Homo sapiens: one gene and its partners. The protein of the gene in region 3 purifies or fractionates together with the protein of the main gene of each other region. This does not show direct contact. Each region holds a gene or a part of one and is shown on either strand. Other genes may lie near its edges.

Region 1 (7,037 bases), on a different chromosome or scaffold from region 3:
TCAGGATTGGTCTGTGTAGGAGTTTACATTTATGGTCTCATCCCTAGTACACTGTGAATTCTTGAAAGCAGACATTTTTCCCCCCCTCTCTGAATCCTCAGCATTCAGCACAATGCCTGGCCCTGACATATTGTGGACTTAATAAATATCTGCTGAATGAATCATGAAAGTCAGGAATAGGATGATTATGAATCTTATCTGTTTTTTATCATTTTAATCTCATTAAAATATGAACAATTTAAAAAGACCTCAGTGCCTCAGTAAAAACACAGGCAGTTTCTTCAGTTCCTTTACACTGGCCTTCCTGCTTTAAGACCTCACACGAATCTCATGGTGTTCAAAACAAAAAAACCCTTGTGGTTAAACTCAAACGTGGGTCAGAACATGATAGGCTAGAACTAGGCCAAATGTTTAAAGAAGCAAATTTAGGATAATAAAGGAAGTACTATGTAAGCAAAGTAAGGGTTGGTACAAGATAAAAAACAAACTAGCTTCCTAACTGGTCTAGGTGAACTCTTTAGTGAGTTACTTAAAGATGCTAATATGCTTTTGAATATTTGACTGTTTAGAGGATGGATAGGTAGGAATTATGGCTCTTCTGTTGTACAAATTCTTTGCCAGTGCTGTCAGAGACAGCATTTAGTGGATCATAAGCCTGACCTAGAGTGATACTTTTTTCTCCACTGCAATAGAGTAGGTATAAATGATAGTAAATCTAAATATGAAGTTTTCAAAATGATAAAATTATGGAGGTTATTTTTGTTTTATAGAAATGTGTTATATAAAATAGCCACAATATAATGTGTTGTATACAATGTGTATTAAACAATGTGTTGTATGAAAATAGCTACCTCGACTTCCTTTAAATAACAGGTACCCATGATGCACTGAAAAATATTTAAAAAATCAACTATATAAGTATTTTATTATAGAAAATGAGGCCTTTGTGTGGGAGATCATGTTTAGTGAATGTGCAGCCATTTTTAACCTCAAAGATTATGTAGTATTCTATAGTATAGTACATAGATTTTATAGTATTTCTACTATATCAATATTATATAGGTTTCTTATTTTATCTATAGGGAAAATGCTCTATTAAAGTATAATCATTGATTTTGAAAAAAAATGTTTTATTGTTTCTTTTCCTTTTCCTGTTTTATTTTTACCACCTTTCAGGTTTTTTTCTTTCCCCTAAGTGAAGATCTGAGGAGAGGACAGGTATTGTTACATGTCAACTGTCAAGTAACTGTGACCCATTACTGAACACTTCATTGTTTTCAGTGATTATGATAGAGGATGTCAGTTTTGTAAAATCTAGAAAACTTTGCTTTATTTTGGCAGCTTGATCCTGTAGTAATGGGGTAGATTCAAAATGTGAAACTTGCTGGATGCATTTAAATTTTATTAATAAAACTTTTATCTAATTGCAGGAGCAAATATAGGCAGACTTTGTCTTCTCTTTAGTATACATTTCTGGAAACCACAATAAGTATATCTTATTTTTAATAAGACAGGTGGCATAATTGGACTGTGTACTCCTGACCAAGGACTTGACATTTGCTAAATTATAGAATGACCAAAAATACAGATCACTTATCTAGAAGTCTGAGTTGCAGAACAATTGTCCTAAAGTTTTTAAAAATTTTTATTACTAAGAAATTCATACCATTGTGATAATTAACAAGATTTGCTCTACAGTTCAATGCTCAGGGACATGTGATCTGCCAGGCTGTGAATGATGGGTAAGGTCACACTTGCCTGGTTGACCCAGTGCAGAATGGGTGCTTTAGACCCAACGGTTCAGATTATAATGAATGACACACTGACATGGTGGTGGTCTCACTGGTAATGCCTGCGTGTGATAGTGCTCAGTTGTTTATGTGCTTTGGTGGATAACACATTTTAAAGCATTGAAATGCAGCTGTGCAAGTACATATATTATACATCCCGTTCCCCAATTCACATAAATAGAAAAAAACAAGTATCTAAATTGTAATACCTAGCATTCAATGTCTTCCTTCCACCCCACTCCCATCAGTGTGTTCTTTTGGAATTAATACAGTGACCTGTATCATTAACCTGGAGATATCAGATCTCAGATATTCTAGTTTATCAGTTAAACACCAAAAAGCATTAAAACAAAGAAAAACTACCCTATTTAATCGTTCAGTAAAAACTACCATATTTAATCATTAAGTTTTGTCATGATTTAGCAAAACAAACGCAAATGTGTGTGTGTCTGTGTGTGTATGTGTTTTATAAAACAGGTTCAGGATAAAATGTATCCATATAGCACATTATGATTATTTTAATACATTTGGCCTATTTATTTTTTGACAGTTTATCAAGTTGTACAATTTAAAAGCCAATATTTATTAATCCCTAATGTACAGAAACATAGGAGGAAGTTGTCTCTTTGGTTAAACAAACTGTTGAAAGATAAACTTTGGCACACCAAAATGTTTACTTTTCAATTGATAAATAATATTTGTACATTTTTATGGGGTCATGTGATATTTTGTTCCATGCATAGAATGTGTAATGATCACATCAGGGTATTTGGGATATCCATTAATCATTTCTGTGTGTTGGGAACATTTCAAATCCTCTCTTTTAACTATTCTGAAATATATAAAACATTGTTATTAACTATAGTCACCCTACTCTACTCTGCTATCCATTGTTAGAACTTATTCCTTCTATCCAATTGTATGTACTGTGCCCATTAACCAACCTTTCTTCACCCCCACCCCCTCTGTAACCCCCACACTCGTCCTATCCTCTAGTAACTCTCATTCTGAGTAGAAACTCCCTACCTATGAGTCCCACGTGTGAGTAAGAACATGCAGTATTTGTCTTTTTGTCATGTGACCTATTTTAAGCAAATACATTAGTTACTAGTAATTAAGTAATTTGGTTTTTGCTCATTCTTAAAACTTAGAAGGGACTTTGTGGGGTTATTTGGATTAATAGCAAAGTGTTAAAGAACATAAGCTCTGGAGCCATAAAGACCTGTGTTTGAGTCCTGGCTCTGCCACTTAATAACTTTGTAACCCTATGCAAGTTATATTTAATATCTCTATACTTCAACATCCTAATTTGTAAAATAGGGATGAAAATAATGTCTACCTCATAGAGTTTTGGTGAGAATTAAATGAAATGATAATATATGTAAAGTACTTGGTTCAGTACATGGTTTAAGTTTTTAATAAACAATAGTTACAATGAATCATCCCTCTTAAAGAACTGTCTCAGTTCTTTGTTTTTCCTCTGGGGTAATTTTTTAGAATCCAGCAAAGCAATTAAAAGTGATTTATTTGATTGATCAGTTTAAATAGTCATGGTAATATCTGAACGTAATTGAAAGGGCAAGGGGAACAGAAATCTCTTTAATCTTACCCTTTTTGCATTGATCCCTTCCTCAGTATTGTCTTTAAAGGGAAAAAACAACATTGTGAAGAATATATGTGGAAGAAGGAAGAAAGGAAAGTTTGTTCACATTTTTAACATTGCTCAAATTGGAAGATGTCTCACAGTCCATGGGATGTCATAGTTTAATTAGCAGCATGTTTTTCCTTAACAATATATAAAATAATAGTGTATCTTACACTTGATTGTATCTTTTAATCAATGAAATATAGTGTATTCTGTATGTCTACCTCTTGAAGATAATGTGTCCCTGAAGAAATGGTTAAAGTCAGTTTATAGCATCAATAGGTAGAATTTTAACTTTCTTTCTAAAACATACCAACACAAAATGTGCACACCTTTTTATATTTTAGGATGAATCCGTTCTGTTAATTTTTAGGGAAGGAAATTAATATGTCACACCTCCTTCCCCATTACTATAAATACATTTGTTTTAGTTATTTCGAAATGCCATAGGGTAACTGGGTTTTCCTGTCTAGAAATGTAATCCTTTAGATTTTGTCTGTAATGTGGTGTTGGTTCTTACAGAACTCTAAATAGTATATATAGTATTTTTCAAGCCGAAAAGTCTCTGGAGATATGATGTTAAAAGGTGTATCCATGCCTCAAGAATCACCCCCCTCCAAAAAATAAGGTAGTGTGGCATAATCAAGTAAGTTGGGGAAATGTGGCATTAAATAAGATTTAACCTGTCTTTACTGTATAATTTAGAACTTTTAAGATGTTGTATACAATGAATCTGCAAAATGGATATGGCCCACGGCATTTGAGACTTGATGTCAGAACCCCTTTTTTGTAAACCATCTATTGAAGTCTCAGTGGACACAAAGTGCTTTGCAGAACACAGTTTTGGAAAGTCTGATAACTACAGTAACGCGATCCAGTATTGCCTGGAAATGAGCTGTTATGTTTAATTGACTATATTGAAGTGTTTTCTTTAACTGTCAAGAGTTTTGTTTCATTTTGAATTGAAATCTTTCTAAATTAAATTGTATAAAAATGTTCCGTCTTAATAGTGAATATAAATTTAATAATAATTTAAATAAAAGTTAAAAATAATTTACACTTTTGATTCACTGTTCTGAAAATTAATGGTCATATTCTACTTAATATCAAGCTAATTGCCCCTACTAAATGGCCTGTACCTTGACTGTTTCTGTAACTTATGTCTAATATTTGTAGTTTAAAAATTCTCTTATATGCCACTTTATGCCACTGTTAATCTGCTTTTCTCTCCCATTTTCCTGTTTAAATTAATTGCTTCTTGTTTTCACTTACTAGAGAATAGATAGCTAGGATTAGTAATATAAAAAAGTTACAGTTTCCAAATAATGTAAAATAGCATCCTCACTCTTTTTCTGGTCTCTGCTCATCATGTACAAATACCTCTGGGGTCAGGGGTATTTGCTGGGCATATTACCAAATAATAAATAGTGATTTTATGTTTTACATACCATAACAGAATGGCTCAATTGCTGACATTACCTGCCCTGCATATTTACCTTCCTCTCTTGAAGATGTCAGCTAGAAAGTAGAACATGAATGAACTAAAAAACAGGCAGCTTTAAATTGAAAGCTAGCCTACTGCCCTGCCTGGAGTCACATCTCCACATTGTGAGTCCTTTTCTGTTGTTCTCATAAAGTAGTGCTAGTTTCCTAAATATTTGTTACTCTACACGTAGGTGTAAATCTAAAAGCACTTTTAGATTTCTTGTCATAGTAGAATTACAACCATAAGTTAAATCGAATTTTCCCATCTTAACTAATATATCCATGGTCTCTTATATAACTTAAAAACTTGTTTTGTCCACCATATAAATTGATTTTTATAATCTTACATATGGTGATAATCTCATCTTCAAATCTGACCTGGTCATTTAGATTTCTGTGAGCTTGTCTCTAATTCTTTGGGCCACAAAGCTTGTCCTAGGAAACTTGGTTCAGTCATTTGATATGTGTTAGAAGCAGATGTCAAATGATAGCCTGAAGCAAAAGATCATTTTGACATTAATAGATTGAAATGCATCTCAAGTGCAGTGGTTTGGGATAAATCTTCACTCCAGAAATCTTGTAAAACCTGTGGCAAAAATCTCAGCTACCTAGAATGTTACTTCATTTCTTCACATTTAGGAACAGAGGCATCTATCTGAAAATAATGTAAAATAATAAAGATTTACTTAAAATCACAAAAAATTTCTGGATCAGCACTGTTTAGTACAGTAGCTGCTATCTATATGTGGCTGTTGAGCACTTGAAATGTGGCTAGTGTGGAAGTGAACTTTTAAATTTTATCTAATAGTCACCAGTGGCTATTGGCTACCATGTTGAACAGTACAATTCCAGATTACAGGATTAGTACAAATTGAATGCATTTTTTACACCAGTGTTTTTTCATTTCTACCTTGTATGATTTGTATCTTGAAATTAATAGGCTAAACCTTTTCTAAAAACAAATATTTAACATGCTTTTTCAAATTATGTTTAATCAGGTTAGTTTTGTCCTTTTCTACCCTGAAGATTCTGATAAACCCTCTAGGGTGGTACATACCCCACAAATCACCATTCTACTCTTCCTACAGCTTTAATAGTTTTACTGTGACATCTCATTCAAGTGATAACACTAAAGCATTGGGGCAAATTTAAATATCAAAAAATGTTGTAATTACAAGTTTCCTCTTGTGCACCGAGCTTACAGACCGAGACATAAACAGTAAGACTAATGTCTCTGGGGAGAAAAATATACAATTATCTTCTATATTATTGGATAAATAAATTACTGTATGGTAATTTGTTTAAATATTGTGTTGCATTCACTGTACTGTGCTAGTTAAAACGGAAAAAGTGGATTGGTGCATTTTGAAATATGAAAGCATTTAAATTTTTTTAGCATATAATTTTAGAGAACAACTTAGCCCTACCCTATTTATGTAAGAAAATTGAGACCTGTTCAGGCAGACCTGCTGCAGGTGATATGTTAACAAAGTCAGAGTTGGCGTGTGCAGCACATTTATTTCACTAAAATTCATTTTGTCATCCACATCATATCAATACAACTCTTTAATTTTATGTAAACTATCTTAAATACAAATTCTGAAAGAGCCACAATGCACAAAAGTTCAAATATTACTTTTTCTCTACTCTCTGCTAATTTTAACTCGTAAGTCTGGAAAATACAGTCCTTAGTTTACAAAAACAACTTCAGAATGTTCCTACCTACAAACCAAGGGTGAGGGGTACGTTAAGATCACTGCTCTTTCTTTCCCAAGTGAAGATGGAAGGAAGCTCACGTCTATTGAGTGCCCCCCTTGACAAGTCACTTTGTGTATATCAACTTGAATGAAGTATACAGAATTATCCTCAACTTACAGATGAGGAAACTGAAGCCTAGAAGGGTTAAATAACGTGCTCATGGTTGCCCAGCTAGTAACTGAAGGAGCCAGAATTCAAACCCAAGTCTCACAGATTGCAAATTCTAATGACTTTTCACTACACAGCCCTGTTTGAGTTGAGAACATCCAGGTGAGTGACTCAGTCTAAATGAAATCTGCTACAGGGGAAAAAGGTTCCAGGTAGTTTACATGGGTAGCTATTGTGGAGATGTAGAGAAT
Region 2 (7,037 bases), on a different chromosome or scaffold from region 3:
ATTTAATAAATGGTGCTGGGAAAACTGGCTAGCCATATGTAGAAAGCTGAAACTGGATCCCTTCCTTACACCTTATACAAAAATTAATTCAAGATGGATTAAAGACTTAAATGTTAGACCTAAAACCATAAAAACCCTAGAAGAAAACCTAGGCATTACCATTCAGGACATAGGCATGGGCAAGGACTTCATGTCTAAAACACCAAAAGCAATGGCAACAAAAGCCAAAATTGACAAATGGGATCTAATTAAACTAAAGAGCTTCTGCACAGCAAAAGAAACTACCATCAGAGTGAACAGGCAACCTACAAAATGGGAGAAAATTTTCGCAACCTACTCATCTGACAAAGGGCTAATATCCAGAATCTACAATGAACTCAAACAAATTTACAAGAAAAAAAAAAACAACCCCATCAAAAAGTGGGCGAAGGACATGAACAGACACTTCTCAAAAGAAGACATTTATGCAGCCAAAAAACACATGAAAAAATGCTCACCATCACTGGCCATCAGAGAAATGCAAATCAAAACCACAAATCAAAACCACTTTTCATTAAAAAGTTAGGAAACAACAGGTGCTGGAGAGGATGTGGAGAAATAGGAACACTTTTACACTGTTGGTGGGACTGTAAACTAGTTCAACCATTGTGGAAGTCAGTGTGGCGATTCCTCAGGGATCTAGAACTAGAAATACCATTTGACCCAGCCATCCCATTACTGGGTATATACCCAAAGGACTATAAATCATGCTGCTATAAAGACACATGCACACGTATGTTTATTGTGGCACTATTCACAATAGCAAAGACTTGGAACCAACCCAAATGTTCAACAATGATAGACTGGATTAAGAAAATGTGGCACATGTACACCATGGAATACTATGCAGCCATAAAAAATGATGAGTTCATGTCCTTTGTAGGGACATGGATGAAATTGGAGATCATCATTCTCAGTAAACCGTCGCAAGGACAAAAAACCAAACACTGCATGTTCTCACTCATACGTGGGAATTGAACAATGAGAACACATGGACACAGGAAGGGAAACATCATACTCTGGGGACTGTTGTGGGGTGGGGGGAGGGGGGGAGGGATAGCATTAGGAGATATACCTAATGCTAAATGACGAGTTAATGGGTGCAGCACACCAGCATGGCACATGTATACATATGTAACTAACCTGCACATTGTGCACATGTACCTAAAACTTAAAGTATAATAATAATAAAATTAAAAAAAAATTTTTAAATTTGAGACAGAGTTTTGCTCTGTCGCCCACGCTGAAGTGCAGTGGCGTGATCTTGGCTCATTGCAACCTCTGCCTCCCAGGTTGAAGCGATTCTCATGCCTCTGTCTCCTGAGTAGCTGGGATTACAGGTGTGTGCCACCAAGCCTGGCTAATTTTTGTATTTTCAGTAGAGATGGGGTTTTGCCATGTTGGCCAGGCTGGTCTCAAATTCTTGACCTCAGGTGATCCACCTGCATCAGCCTCCCAAAGTGCTGGGATTACACGTATGAGCCACTGCATCCAGCAAAATTATTGTTCTTTTGTTAAAATGCTATATAAGCTCAAGTTCTAACAACTCCTTGGAGTTATTCATGGCTGGGTGCTCCCGTGTGTATGTGAGATGCACATGTTAATAAACTTCTGTTTTTCTCTTGTTAACCTGTCTTTGGCCAGTCTTGTTTATAGGGCCTCCACCGAAGAACTAAGATGGGCAGAGGGAAAAAAGAATTTTTCTTTTCTTTTTTTTTTTTTGAGATGGAGTCTCGTCCTGTCACGCAGGCTGGAGTGCAATGGTGCTATCTCAGCTCACTGCAACCTCCGCCTCCTGGGTTGAAATAATTCTCCTGCCTCAGCCTCCCGAGTAGCTAGGATTGCAGGTGTGTGCCATCATGCCCAGCTAATTTTTTTTTTGTTGTTGTTATTTTTAGTAGAGACAGGGTTTCACCATGTTGGCTAGGCTGGTCGCGAACTCCTGACCTCGTGATCTGCCCGCCTTGGCCTCTCAAAGTGCTGGGATTACAGGTGTGAGCCACTGCACCCGGCTGGGAAGAGAATTTTTCTTCCCTTGCACCGTCACTGAGCCTCCAGACACAAGAGAGACGATGGTGGCACGGAAGGAATTCCAGGACAATCCGCGTTCTCAGCTCTTGAACCCATAAACCCTTGTGGTTTTGGTTCCTGCCCTGAAGCTCCCTCCTCCCCGAAGGCTGCCCCAGGCATGGCTCCTACCCCCTGGGAATGGAGGTAGTCCATGGTCTTGGTGATGGTGCACAGGACGTCACTGGCTTCGCGCTCCGAGAAGTATCTCTGCCGGAGGATGCGGTCCAGGAGCTCCCCACCACGCATCAGCTCCATTACCAGGTACACAAACTTGCCATCATCATAGACCTGCGGAGTGGAGAAGGGGCGCACACGTCACCACGGCTGGTTGCTGTGAAAGAGCAACTACTCCAGAGGGGACAGGAGAGGGAAGTCAGAGGGGAGAGGCTGGGACCACAGGGTCCTATGGGAGTGCAAACAAGGCTTCTGCAGGGTAGAAGCAAATGGCCATTCCTGTCATACCATATGTGCTCTTTTTAGGAAGAAAACGGCTTTAATAATCTGCTGCTAAGCAGGGACTGAGTAAGGACATACAAGATGGGCGTGTCCTTAGCTGAGATGAATGGCTTCATGACTCTGCCAGGAGATATTTGTTATTTATTTATTATTATTATTTTTTGAGATGGAGTCTCGCTCTGTCACCCAGGCTGAAGTGCAGTGGCGCCATCTCAGCTCACTGCAACCTCCAGCTCCTCCTGGGTTCAAGCGATTCTCCTGCCTTAGCCTCCCGAGTAGCTGGGATTATAGGTGCACGTCACCATGCCCAGCTAATTTTTGTATTTTTAGTAGAGACAGGGTTTCACCATGTTGGCCAAGCTGGACTCAAACTCCTGGCCTCAAGTGATCCGCCTGCCTCAGCCTCCCAAAGTGCTGGGATTACAGGCGTGAGCCATAGTGCCTGGCCTGCCAGGAGATATTTAGACGTTAAGAAATGCAAATGTTGGCAAACCACCTTGCAAGAGCAGGGCCTCAAGGCAGTGCTTTTCAAACTGTAACGTGCATCCAATCCAATCTTGGGGATCTTGCTAAAATGCATGTTCTGGTCCTGCAGACTGAGGTGGGGCCTGGCCCTCCGCATTTCTAACCAGTTTCCCATGATGTCTGTGCTGCTACCGCATGGACAGCACTGAGTGGCCAGGCGCTGGGAGCACAGAGAGGCTAGGCAGAGTCCAGGGCGAAGTTACATATCAGAGCCGTGCTGTTGCTTCAGAGAAGCAATAGAAAAAGATAGTTTTCTCCATACTGGCTTTTATCTCATAAACTAAATAAAAACAATATGCTCTGATTATTCTTTTTATGTTTCGATTTTTTGAGATGGAGTCTCTCTCAGTTGCCCAGGCTGGAGTGCAATGGTGTAATCTCGGTTCAGTGCAACCTCCACCTCCCAGGTTCAAGCAATTCTCCTGCCTCAGCCTCCGGAGTAGCTGGGATTACAGGTGTGCGCCACCACACCCGGCTAATTTTGTATTTTTAGTAGAGATGGGGTTTCACCATGTTGACCAGGCTGGTCTCAAAGTGATCTGCCTTCAGGAGACCTCAAGTGATCTGCCTGCCTACGCCTCCCAAAGTGCTGGGATTACAGGTGTGAGCCACCGCACCCGGCCTGTTCGGGCTATTCTTATGCCAAGCTTGCATGTTAAGACCGTTTGCACGCAGCAGTCACTATGCATGAGGGAAACTGAGGTAGGCCCAATATCCTGTGACTCTAGGTTCATAATGCTAGAATCAGTTTGGAGTTGGAGCGTGAGGAGGAAAATTGTCTCCTGTCTGTGCTCCCGGATCCCAAACCCTGCACCCCCATGGGCCTCTATGAGAGACTCCGCCTGTGGACTGTAATTCACACAAGCTCTCTCTTCCTCTGTTTTACTTGCTCCCTCCATGACTGGGGCGGTGGCTGTCAAAAAGACTTGAGTACACAGTCCAGCAAGTCAGCTCCAAGTGACTGAGATATGTGGGTGGTGGAAACCAGCTGAGACAGGCATGAGATGTGAGAAAGCTTGCTCTGAGTGAATGGGAGTTTTGTGTCAGTTGAAGAAACAGAAGGAAGTGGAGATGCTGTTGCACGGGGACCACTCACATCCTTGAGGGTGATGATGTTCGGGTGCTGGCCGTACCGCAGGAGGATCTCAATCTCTTCCGAGGGGTCTCTCTTGCTCTTATCAATGATCTGGAACAAACACAGCACATGGCAGTGAGGGGTCTACTTTAGGCTTTCGGGTGGTATCTGCTGGTGGACCATTGAGTTTGGATAAAGTCTGGCCCCAGGTGGCCCAATCACTACAATCTCACACCCGACCAAGAGATAACCTGAGATTGTCTGGAGATTCATGGCAAGTCCTTTCTTTGACAACTAGTGTAAGATTTACATCTACAAAGAGGAGTACAGGCTGGGCAAGGTGGCTCATGCCTGTAATCCCAGCACTTTGGGAGGCCGGGGTGGGCAGGTGGCTTGAGGTCAGGAGTTTAAGACCAGCCAGCTTGGCTAACATGACAAAACCTGGTCTCTACTAAAAATACAAATATTAGCCAGACATGGTGGTGTGTGCCTGTAATCCCAGCTACTCAGGAGGCTGAGGCATGAGAATCACTTGAACCTGGGAGGCAGAGGTTGCAGGGAGCTGAGATAATGCCACTGCACTCCAGCCTGGGTGACAGAGCGAGACTCTGTCTCAAAAAAAAAAAAAAAAAAGGAGTACAAGACTTCAGACATGAATTTTAAGGTGTTATAAGGTTGGGTGGAGACACGTGTAGGGAGCTCATGCAAGTGCCACCAAATAACAGACTGTGTCCCACCCTCGCAGTGGGCACCATCCACAACAAGCCTCCAGCCACTGTGCACCTTCTGCCTTGTTCCGGGAATTACAAACCAGCCACAAAATGAGGTGAGGCGCATGGCTCTCACCAAGAGATGCTGGGGATGGTGCGCAGGCCAGACCTGCCTTGCTGTTTAGACATATGCAAGCTCCCCTCCCCCGCCCAGCATCTGTATCCGATGTCTTAGGATAACAGATAAAGTTGCTTCAACCCCATGGAGACATATGGTTTCTGAGGACAGGGTGTTGGGATTTAAGCCTACCTTGGAAACAGGAAGTCGCTGTTGGTCCCTGGTGGCTAATCCCTCTGGAGGTGCCTAAGTCCCGCCCTTGCCGCCCCTGCTGTGGGGACGGGACCAGTGGGAGGAGGGCACCACACTCATGGGAAATTGGCAACATGCAACATGTATTTTGCAAACAACACTCAGAGCAGAAGAAAAGCGATTGGAAACACCTTCCTAACCATGATTTGTACTATTCTCACATTAGTTCAACCTAATTTTAAAATAGTCTCTATTTGGAGACCGTGCAGTCATTTTACTACTAGAATATGAGGGTGACTTGCTTTTAACTTCTATCATGTCAAAGTCTCTAGGCAGAGCTTTGCATAAAACTCTATTTCGTTAATTTTTTTTGGAGACAGGGTCTCACTCTGTTGCCTAGGTTGGAATACAGTGGTACAAGCATAGTTCACTGCAACATCAAACCCCTGGGCTCAAGTGATCCTCCTGCCTCAGCCTCCAGAATAACTAGGACTACAGAGGTGTGTGCCACCCTACTCAGCTAATTTTTAAATTCTTTGTAGAGATGATGGGGTCTTGCTGTGTTGCCCAGGCTGGTCTCTAACTCCTGGCTTCAAGTGATCCTCCTGCCTCAGCCTCCCAAAGTGCTGAGATTACAGGCATGAGCAACTACACCTGGCTATTTCTTTACTTTAGAGAACCAAACGCTTGGGTAGCATTTGACTCACTGCTCATAATCTGTCCCCTGGTCACCCTTCGTCCACTCCCCGTCACCGTTATAAAAACTCACCATAGTGCCAGTTCTCACCCCATTATAGTTTCAAAGGATGCTCTGCCACGGCCACCATTCAGCTGTGACTGCATCAGTGGCCCATGATCTGTGAGTCCTAATAGCCTGCGTTGTAAACAGGCAGAAGAGTTAGGGTCCCTTTCTGGACATAGAATTTCTCTCCTTCTGCTGCATTTAATTCTACTGAAGTTTTAGCTAGGACACTAGGACTAATTCTATTGCCAACATAAATGCATCATTCTCAAGTAGAGACTTTTAAAACGATCATTCAAGGAGGGGTGGGGGACTTTCCCTAACATGCCACAGCCTAAGCAGGTCCTGGGAGGCTGGTCCTGCACTGCTTGTAGGGAAGCTGGCTGTCAGGTACCCAAACTCCTCTGCTCCTGTCTGCCTGTGGGCATCCCGTCTATCGGGGCCGGGATCCTGTCTTTGCAATTAGAGAAGGTTAAAATACATTTATAAATTTATAAAAGAATTCAGTAGAAGATTTTTTCGCAAATATGATTTCATGATAAAGGGATGTGTTCTTAGCATGAATCTGTTTTATCACTCTCACAGTGGAACAAGATGCAGAGTAAACAAGAAAGTGGGAGCTTTTTCTCCACCGCCACGGACCATCTTCAAGATACAAGGAGTAAAAAAGGCCGACGCGAGCAGGTGCATCCTACGCCATCCCTTGTTTTAAAAATGGAGAGAAGAATGCAGATAGACGCATCCATTTCCTTGTGGGTGCATAAAATAACCCTGGAAGGAAGGAGGAAACATTTAATTGCCTTGCCTTCCTGTGAGGAGGGGAACAGGGTGCCTGGGGGCCCATGGGTGGGAGGGAAACTTTGCTGTATCCACATGAATTTTTAAAAATTTTGAACCACAAGAATATATTGTCTATTCAAAATATGAAATAAAGAATTCCAAAATTTCAGCTTACTATTTTGTAAGCTGAAATTGCAGGACAACGTGACTATTATTTTAAAGAATCTGGGACTACAGATGGCTGCCCTCTCAACCCTAGTATCTATTTTATTTCTATGTGTTCTTTTGTTGTGAGTCTTCAGAAAAATTCTGACTTACAATGATAAGTAT
Region 3 (7,000 bases):
AATGCCAGCACTTTGGGAGGCTGAGGCAGGTGGATTACTTGAGGCCAGGAGTCCGTGACCAGCCTGGCCAACATAGTGAAACACCCTCTCTACTAAAAATAGAAAAAAAAATTTAGCTGGGTAATCCCAGCTACTCGGGAGGCTGAGGCAGGAAAATCGCTTGAACCTGGGGGGCAGAGGTAGCAGTGAACCGAGATTGTGCCATTGCACTCCGGTCTGGGAGAAAGAGCGAGATTCTGTCTCAAAAAAAAAAAAAGTAGCTAATATTTTTTGAGTGTGCCTGTGTGCCAGGCATTACTTTTATGTCATGTGTTCTTCATAGCACTCTGATGAGTTAGGTATCATCAATTAGTATATTTGTATAATATTACATTCAGGAGATCTTTGAACCTGGAGTCTGACTTAAGAGCCGATGGCTACCACATTACACAATTCCAGACGCCAACATTTACTTTATTATTATTGTTGGCACAGTGGAGTATCATTCACTTGAGATACAAAGTGGATAGTCCCCCTGGGATTGTGCATCAAGAGTGTTTGGCCTTAACCACATGTTTATACGCCTGCCCCACTTGTCTCTTAAACTCTTAAATGAAAATGCAAGTTATTTTTCTGATGTACATTTTGATTTGTTCCATGATTTTTTTCTTGTTTCATTTTTAAGATTCTTGGATCTCCCAGTCAGCTTCATTTCCCAGTAATCAGAAACAGCCAGGGGTGGATTCTTTATCACCAGTGGCCTTACTTCGTAAGCAGAATTTCCAGCCTACAGCCCAACAACAACTTACTAAACCAGCTAAAATCACTTGTGCAAATTGCAAAAAGCCTTTACAGAAGGGACAGACAGCTTATCAACGAAAAGGATCAGCTCACCTCTTTTGCTCTACCACCTGCCTTTCTTCCTTCTCTCATAAACGTACTCAAAACACACGAAGCATAATATGTAAAAAGTAAGCAGTACCTTTCAACATTTCTCCACATAGTTGAATACTAATGGTATAAATAAGTACTCAATATAACTGCAGAGCTGGATAGATTTATGGGTAGAATTGTTGCAGGAGTGTCTTCAAGTTTATTGAGCTTGAGCTCCTAGAATATATCCAAGCTGTGGACTCGTATGTGCTGTATTTACTCTCGGCAGAAAAATGGAACATAGGTTTGGAAATCAATTGCCCCTCTCCCTGCTACTACATTTGCCTCCCCTGCTCCCCCATCTTAACACCTTAGTTCTATGAATTTATTACCAGCATTTTGGTTTGTTGGTTTGTTTTTGAGACGGAGTCTCACTCTGTTGCCCAGGCTGGAGTGCAGTGGCACGATTTCCACTCACTGCAACTTCCACCTCCCAGGTTCAAGCGATTCTCCTGCCTCAGCCTCCCGAGTAGCTGGGATTACAGGTGCGCGCCACCACGCCCAGCTAATTTTTTGTATTTTTAGTAGAGACAGGGTTTCATCATTTTGGCCAGGCTGGTCTCGAACTCCTGACCTCAAGTGATCTGCCCACTTCAGCCTCCCAAAGTGCTGGAATTACAGGTGTGAGCTACTGTGCCCAGCCTATTACCAGCATTTTTGAATGCATCTAAAAATCTTAAAAACTTGTGGCAAGGTTCTTGTGCTACGAAAGATTTTTATCTCTGACTCTTCTCTTTCTGTATCATTTAAGAACTCTTGGCAATAAAGCCAAAAGTGGATTTGCTGCATCTAAAAGTTATACTTGATTTCTAGTATTAAATCATAAGAAAATGAAAAATGGCAATTATTATTAATATATTTGACTTGTATTAAAATTCAGTGTTCTTAAATTATGTGTCTATCCCTTCTGTTTCAGAGATGCATCTACAAAGAAGGCTAATGTCATTCTTCCAGTAGAATCAAGCAAATCCTTCCAAGAATTTTATAGTACATCTTGTTTGTCTCCCTGTGAAAACAACTGGAATCTTAAAAAAGGAGTTTTTAATAAGTCAAGATGTACAATTTGTAGTAAATTAGCAGAGGTCTGGATTTTTATACCTAAGTTGTTGTTTAGGCTAACAGTGATAATTTTAACTTTTAAGTGCTATTATGTACTCTTTCATCTACATAATGCACGTGTTCTGGATGTATAACATGAAGCTGAAAGGAAGAATAAGGATATGTTAGAACTATCTTATGGGATATTTTATAAATAAAATTCCATTTGCATAGCATGGAAAGTACACATCTGTTTCTATGGAATTGTTGTGCTCATAAACAAGGCAATTGTTTTATGGTGGATTTTGTTATTACTGATGACATTAAATAAAAATGTAGTCTCAAGAGTTGGGGGTCAAGGGCTGGAAAACTACCCCTTGGGGCCGGACGTGGTGGCTCACATCTGTAATCCCAGCACTTTGGGAGGCCGAGGCAGGTGGATATCTTGAAGTCAGGAGTTCGAGACCAACCTGGCCAACAGGGTGAAACCCAATCTCTACTAAAAATACAAAAATTAGCTGGGTGTGGTGGCGCAAGCTACTTGGGAGGCTGAGGCAGGAGAATCGCTTGAACCAGGGAGGCGGAGGCTGCAGTGAGCTGAGATTGCGCCACTGTACTCCAGCCTGGGTGATAGAGCAAGACTCTGTCTCAAAAAAAGAAAGAAAAAAAAAAAAACAAAAAACAACATACCCATCTAACAAACCTGCACATGTATTCCCTGAATCTAAAAGTTAAAATTAGAAAGCAGCAGATCCCGGTACAAGAACACATGGAACAAGTGGAGTGAATGTATGCTGTTTGCTTAACATTCAGTGATATTGCAATCTTCCCATTTCCTAGAAGAGAAGAAACATGCATGCAGGCAGTCCTCACTTTATAAAAGTCTTTGGTAACTAAATTTGGTGTTGGTTACCCCTGAGTCATGCATATCAAGAACATGATTTTATCTCAGTTACCACAGTGAGAACTACCCTGCTTCTGGTTATACAGACACGATCCTGAATACAGATAATATTGATTCCCTTAGCTCCCTCCACAAATGTTCTAGGGCAGTGAACTTTACTTACAATACCATCTAAAAATTGTTGATCCTTGTTGATGAGTGACTCATACATATAATCCCAACTGCTTAGGAGGCTGAGACAGGACAATCACTGGAGTCCAGGAGTTTGAGGTGGAGTGAGCTATGATTGTACCACTGCTTTCCAGCCAGGGTGATAAAGCAAGAGACACTATCAAAAGAAAAAAAAAGATTGTTGACCCATTTCCTTTAAGCGGGTCATGTCAAAATCTTCTAAACCAAAGTCAGGTGTGGTGCTGCAAGCCTGTAATCTGGGCTATTCAGGAGGCATGAGTAGAGGGCTTGCTTGAGACCAGGAATTCGAGCCCAGGGCAACATAGCAAAAACTTGTCTCAAAAAAAAAAAAAAAGTTCATTATCTGTTGTTATTAAATGTCTTTAGGGAAGTTATTATTGATTTTATTGCTTTCCTATGAATCTTGTCCTCTTTTGTGAAATCAAAGTGATCTTACAAATAAAGGAAAAAATAAAATATGCTTTTTAAAAATCTTTTCCCAGCTAGGCATGGTGGCTCATGCCTGTAATCCCAGCATGTTGGGAGGCCAAGGCGGGCAGATCACTTGAGGTCAGGAGTTCGATACCAGCCTGGCCAACGTGGTGAAACCCCGTCTCTACTAAAAATAAAAAAATTAGCTGGGCGTGGTGGCGGGCGCCTGTAATCCCAGCTACTTGGGAGGCTGAGGCAGGAGAATCGCTTGAACATGGGAGGCAGAGGTTGCAGTGAGCCGAGATTGTGCCACTGCACTCCAGCCTGAGTGACAGAGTGAGACTCTATCTCAGAAAAAAAAAAAAATCTTTTCCCTGGGTATATCTTCCTCTGAGATATGATTAGGGATTCTTTGCTTCTATTGCAGAAACTAGTTATCTCATTGCTTGCTATGCTAATCTGGTTCATATATCTTAGTTAATGAATTCTGGTTTTTCTTTTAGATTCGCCATGAAGTCAGCGTAAATAATGTAACACATAAACTGTGCAGTAACCATTGCTTTAATAAGTACAGATTGGCCAATGGTCTAATAATGAACTGCTGTGAACACTGTGGAGAGTACATGCCTAGTAAGAGTACTGGAAACAACATCCTGGTGATTGGAGGTCAGCAGAAGAGATTTTGCTGCCAAAGTTGTATTAACGAATATAAACAGGTAATTCTTTTTCATGAGCTTTAAATGATCAAATATATAGTAGCTTCACCCTTACATCTTACATGAACCGGATTTATCTTAGAATCTCATTTAATTCCATTTTGCCATTCTGTCATTGGTTTGTCCCATCTCAAATATTCAAGTCTAAGATTGTTGTAAGCTTGTTTTAAAAATTTTCTTTGGGCTGGGTGCAGTGACTCACTTGTGTAATTCCATCATTTTGGGAGGCTGAGGTGGGAGGATTGCTTGAGCTCAGGAGCTTGAGACCATCCTGGGCAGCATAGTGAGACGTAATCTCTACTAAAAATTTTTTAGAATTAGCCGCAGGCATGATGGCATGTGCCTGTAGTCTCAGCTACTTTGGAAGCTGAGGTGTAAGTATTGCTTGAACCTGGGAGATTGAGGCTACAGTGAACTATGATTGTACCACTGCACTCCAACTAGGCAACAGAGCGAAAGCCTGTCTCAAAAAAAAAAAAAAAGAAAGAAAATGATCAGGCACAGTGGCTAACACTTGTAATCCCAGCACTTTGGCCAAGGCAGGCAGATCACTTGGGGCCAGGATTTTGAAACCAGACTGGGCAACATGACAAAACCCCCTGTCTACTAAAAATACAAAAATTAGCCAGGCGAGTTGGTGTGTGCCTGTAATCCCAGCTACTTGGGAAGCTGAGGCATAGGAATCACTTGAACCTGGTAGGCAGAGGTTGCAAACCCGAGATCATGCCACTGCATTCCAGCCGGGGTGACAGAGCAAGACTCTGTCTCAAAAAAAAGAAAAAGGTTACTCCTGGATGAATTTAAAAGACTAATTTTTCTTCTGTACCATTTAGCACTCCCACTAAGCACTTGATAATTCTAGTTGCTCTACATTCTGACCAAAATTTGGAGCCAGGTGAGGTGCTTCACGCCTGTAATCCCTGCACTTTGGGAGGCCCAGGTGGGAGAATCAGCTGAGGCCAGGAGTTCAAGACCGGCCTGGTCAACATAGCCAGACCCTGTCTCTACAAAAAAAAAAAAATTAAAATGTGGTAGTTGTCTGTTTTGTCTATCAGGTCTTCAGCCCATTTTTTATTGAATTCTTTTTGTTACTGAGTTGTAGGAGTCCTTGGTATTATTCTGGATACATGTATTTTATAAAATAAATATATTTGGAAAAAAATTTTTTTTCTTCTGTTTTTTTTTTAAAAGAAAAAATAGGCTGGACGTGGTGGCTCACGCCTGTAATCCCAGCACTTTGGGAGGCCAAGGCGGATGGATCACCTAAGGTCAGGAGTTGGAGACCAGCCTGACCAACGTGGCGAAACCCCGTCTCTACTAAATACAAAAAAAATAAGCCGGGCATGGTGGCTGGCACCTGTAATCCCAGCTACTCTGGAGGCTGAGGCAGGAGAATCGCTTGAACCTGGGAGGTGGAGGTTGCAGTGAGCGGAGATTGCGCCATTGCGCTCCAGCCTGGGCAGCAAGAGCAACGCTCTGTCTCAAAAAAAAGAAAAAGGAAATACAGGTGGGTCTCAATATGTTGCCCAGGCTGGTCTCGAACTCCTGGGTTCAAGCAGTACTCCCACCTCAGCTTCCCAAAGTACTGGGATTATAGGCATGAGCCATTGTGCCTGGCCGGAAGATTTTCTTTCAGACTGATTTGTCTTTTCATTTTCTTAATGTTTTGTTTTGTTTTCCTAATATTACTTTTGAAAAGTACAAGATTTTAATTTTTATAAGTCCTATTTATTATTTGCTTCTCTTGTGATTAATAGTTTTTGTGTATTTAAGGAATCTTTGCCCACCAAAATTACAAAGATATTTTCCTACATTTCCTTCTAGAATCTTTTCAGTTTTAGCTTTTATTTTTTAGGCCTGTGATTCATTTTGAATTAATTTTGTATATGGTGTTAGATGTGGGTTAAAGAATTATCAACTTCCTGACTTTAAGACATTAAAATGCTGCAATAATCAAGGCAGTATGGTTTGGTATATAAACAAATGGGCTAACAGAGATCAGTGAAATAGAAGATAGTCCAGAAATAGAACCACATAGTAGATTTTTCAAGAAGGTACCAAATTATTCTGATGGGAAAAACAAGATTTTTTAACAAATTATGCTGAAATAATTTTTTGTTTGTGTGGAAATAAATGAGCCTTGACCCCTTTTCATTGCATACACAAAAATTAAGATAGATCATAATGTAAAACTGGAAATATTCTTAACCCCCATTTCACTGGATGAGAATTTAATTGGTTAGCTTCAAGGGAAAGTAACCCTGAATTGCTAGGCTTTTATCGAACAGGAGAAACAGTGGATACCCATAGTTGACTTTTCTGTTTATTTTTGCAAGAAAACCTTATTTATGTTAAATTATTTTTTCTTTACATATATTGCACCTAATATTTAAGAAAGCTTTTGGTTTATAGAAGAACACAATGAACATTAACAAATAGAAAGGTCCAGGCACGGTGGTACGTGCCTGTAATCCTAGCACTTTGGGAGGCCAAGATGGGAGGATGGCACTAGTCCAGGAGTTGGAGACCAACGTGGGCAACATAGTAAGACCCCATCTCTACAAAACAATTTTTTTAATTAGCCAGATATGGTGGTTGTACACTCGTAGTTCTAGCTCCTCAGGAGACTGAGGTGAGTGAGCTATGATTGCACCATTACACTCCACCCTGGGCAACAGAATGAGACTATCTTTAACAAAACGAAATTTAAAAAGACTTAATATTGTTAAATTGTCTTTTCAAAGACAGTTACATGACAAAAGTAACCTACTGACCTTCTAATTTGGAAATAAAAACTATATTAAGTCTTAATATTTTCCAAGCCTTT

The links.
Region 1: the proteins of ZMYM5 (region 3) and RPS6KA3 purify together in Homo sapiens (affinity purification with mass spectrometry; 2 studies listed by BioGRID and IntAct, with this or other methods). This does not show direct contact.
Region 2: the proteins of ZMYM5 (region 3) and RPS6KA2 purify together in Homo sapiens (affinity purification with mass spectrometry; 2 studies listed by BioGRID and IntAct, with this or other methods). This does not show direct contact.

The regions. Positions count from the first base shown.
Region 1 is NC_000023.11:20,256,873-20,263,909, reverse strand, and holds part of RPS6KA3 (ribosomal protein S6 kinase alpha-3), read left to right. Parts: intron 1-7,037. UniProt on the Homo sapiens protein: Serine/threonine-protein kinase that acts downstream of ERK (MAPK1/ERK2 and MAPK3/ERK1) signaling and mediates mitogenic and stress-induced activation of the transcription factors CREB1, ETV1/ER81 and NR4A1/NUR77, regulates translation through RPS6 and EIF4B phosphorylation, and mediates cellular proliferation, survival, and differentiation by modulating mTOR signaling and repressing pro-apoptotic function of BAD and DAPK1.
Region 2 is NC_000006.12:166,428,215-166,435,251, forward strand, and holds part of RPS6KA2 (ribosomal protein S6 kinase alpha-2), read right to left. Parts: intron 4,277-7,037; coding exon 4,187-4,276; intron 2,398-4,186; coding exon 2,239-2,397; intron 1-2,238. UniProt on the Homo sapiens protein: Serine/threonine-protein kinase that acts downstream of ERK (MAPK1/ERK2 and MAPK3/ERK1) signaling and mediates mitogenic and stress-induced activation of transcription factors, regulates translation, and mediates cellular proliferation, survival, and differentiation.
Region 3 is NC_000013.11:19,832,650-19,839,649, reverse strand, and holds part of ZMYM5 (zinc finger MYM-type protein 5), read left to right. Parts: intron 1-664; coding exon 665-950; intron 951-1,828; coding exon 1,829-1,994; coding exon of another isoform or gene 1,995-2,105; exon of another isoform or gene 2,106-2,186; intron 2,187-3,960; coding exon 3,961-4,173; intron 4,174-7,000. UniProt on the Homo sapiens protein: Functions as a transcriptional regulator.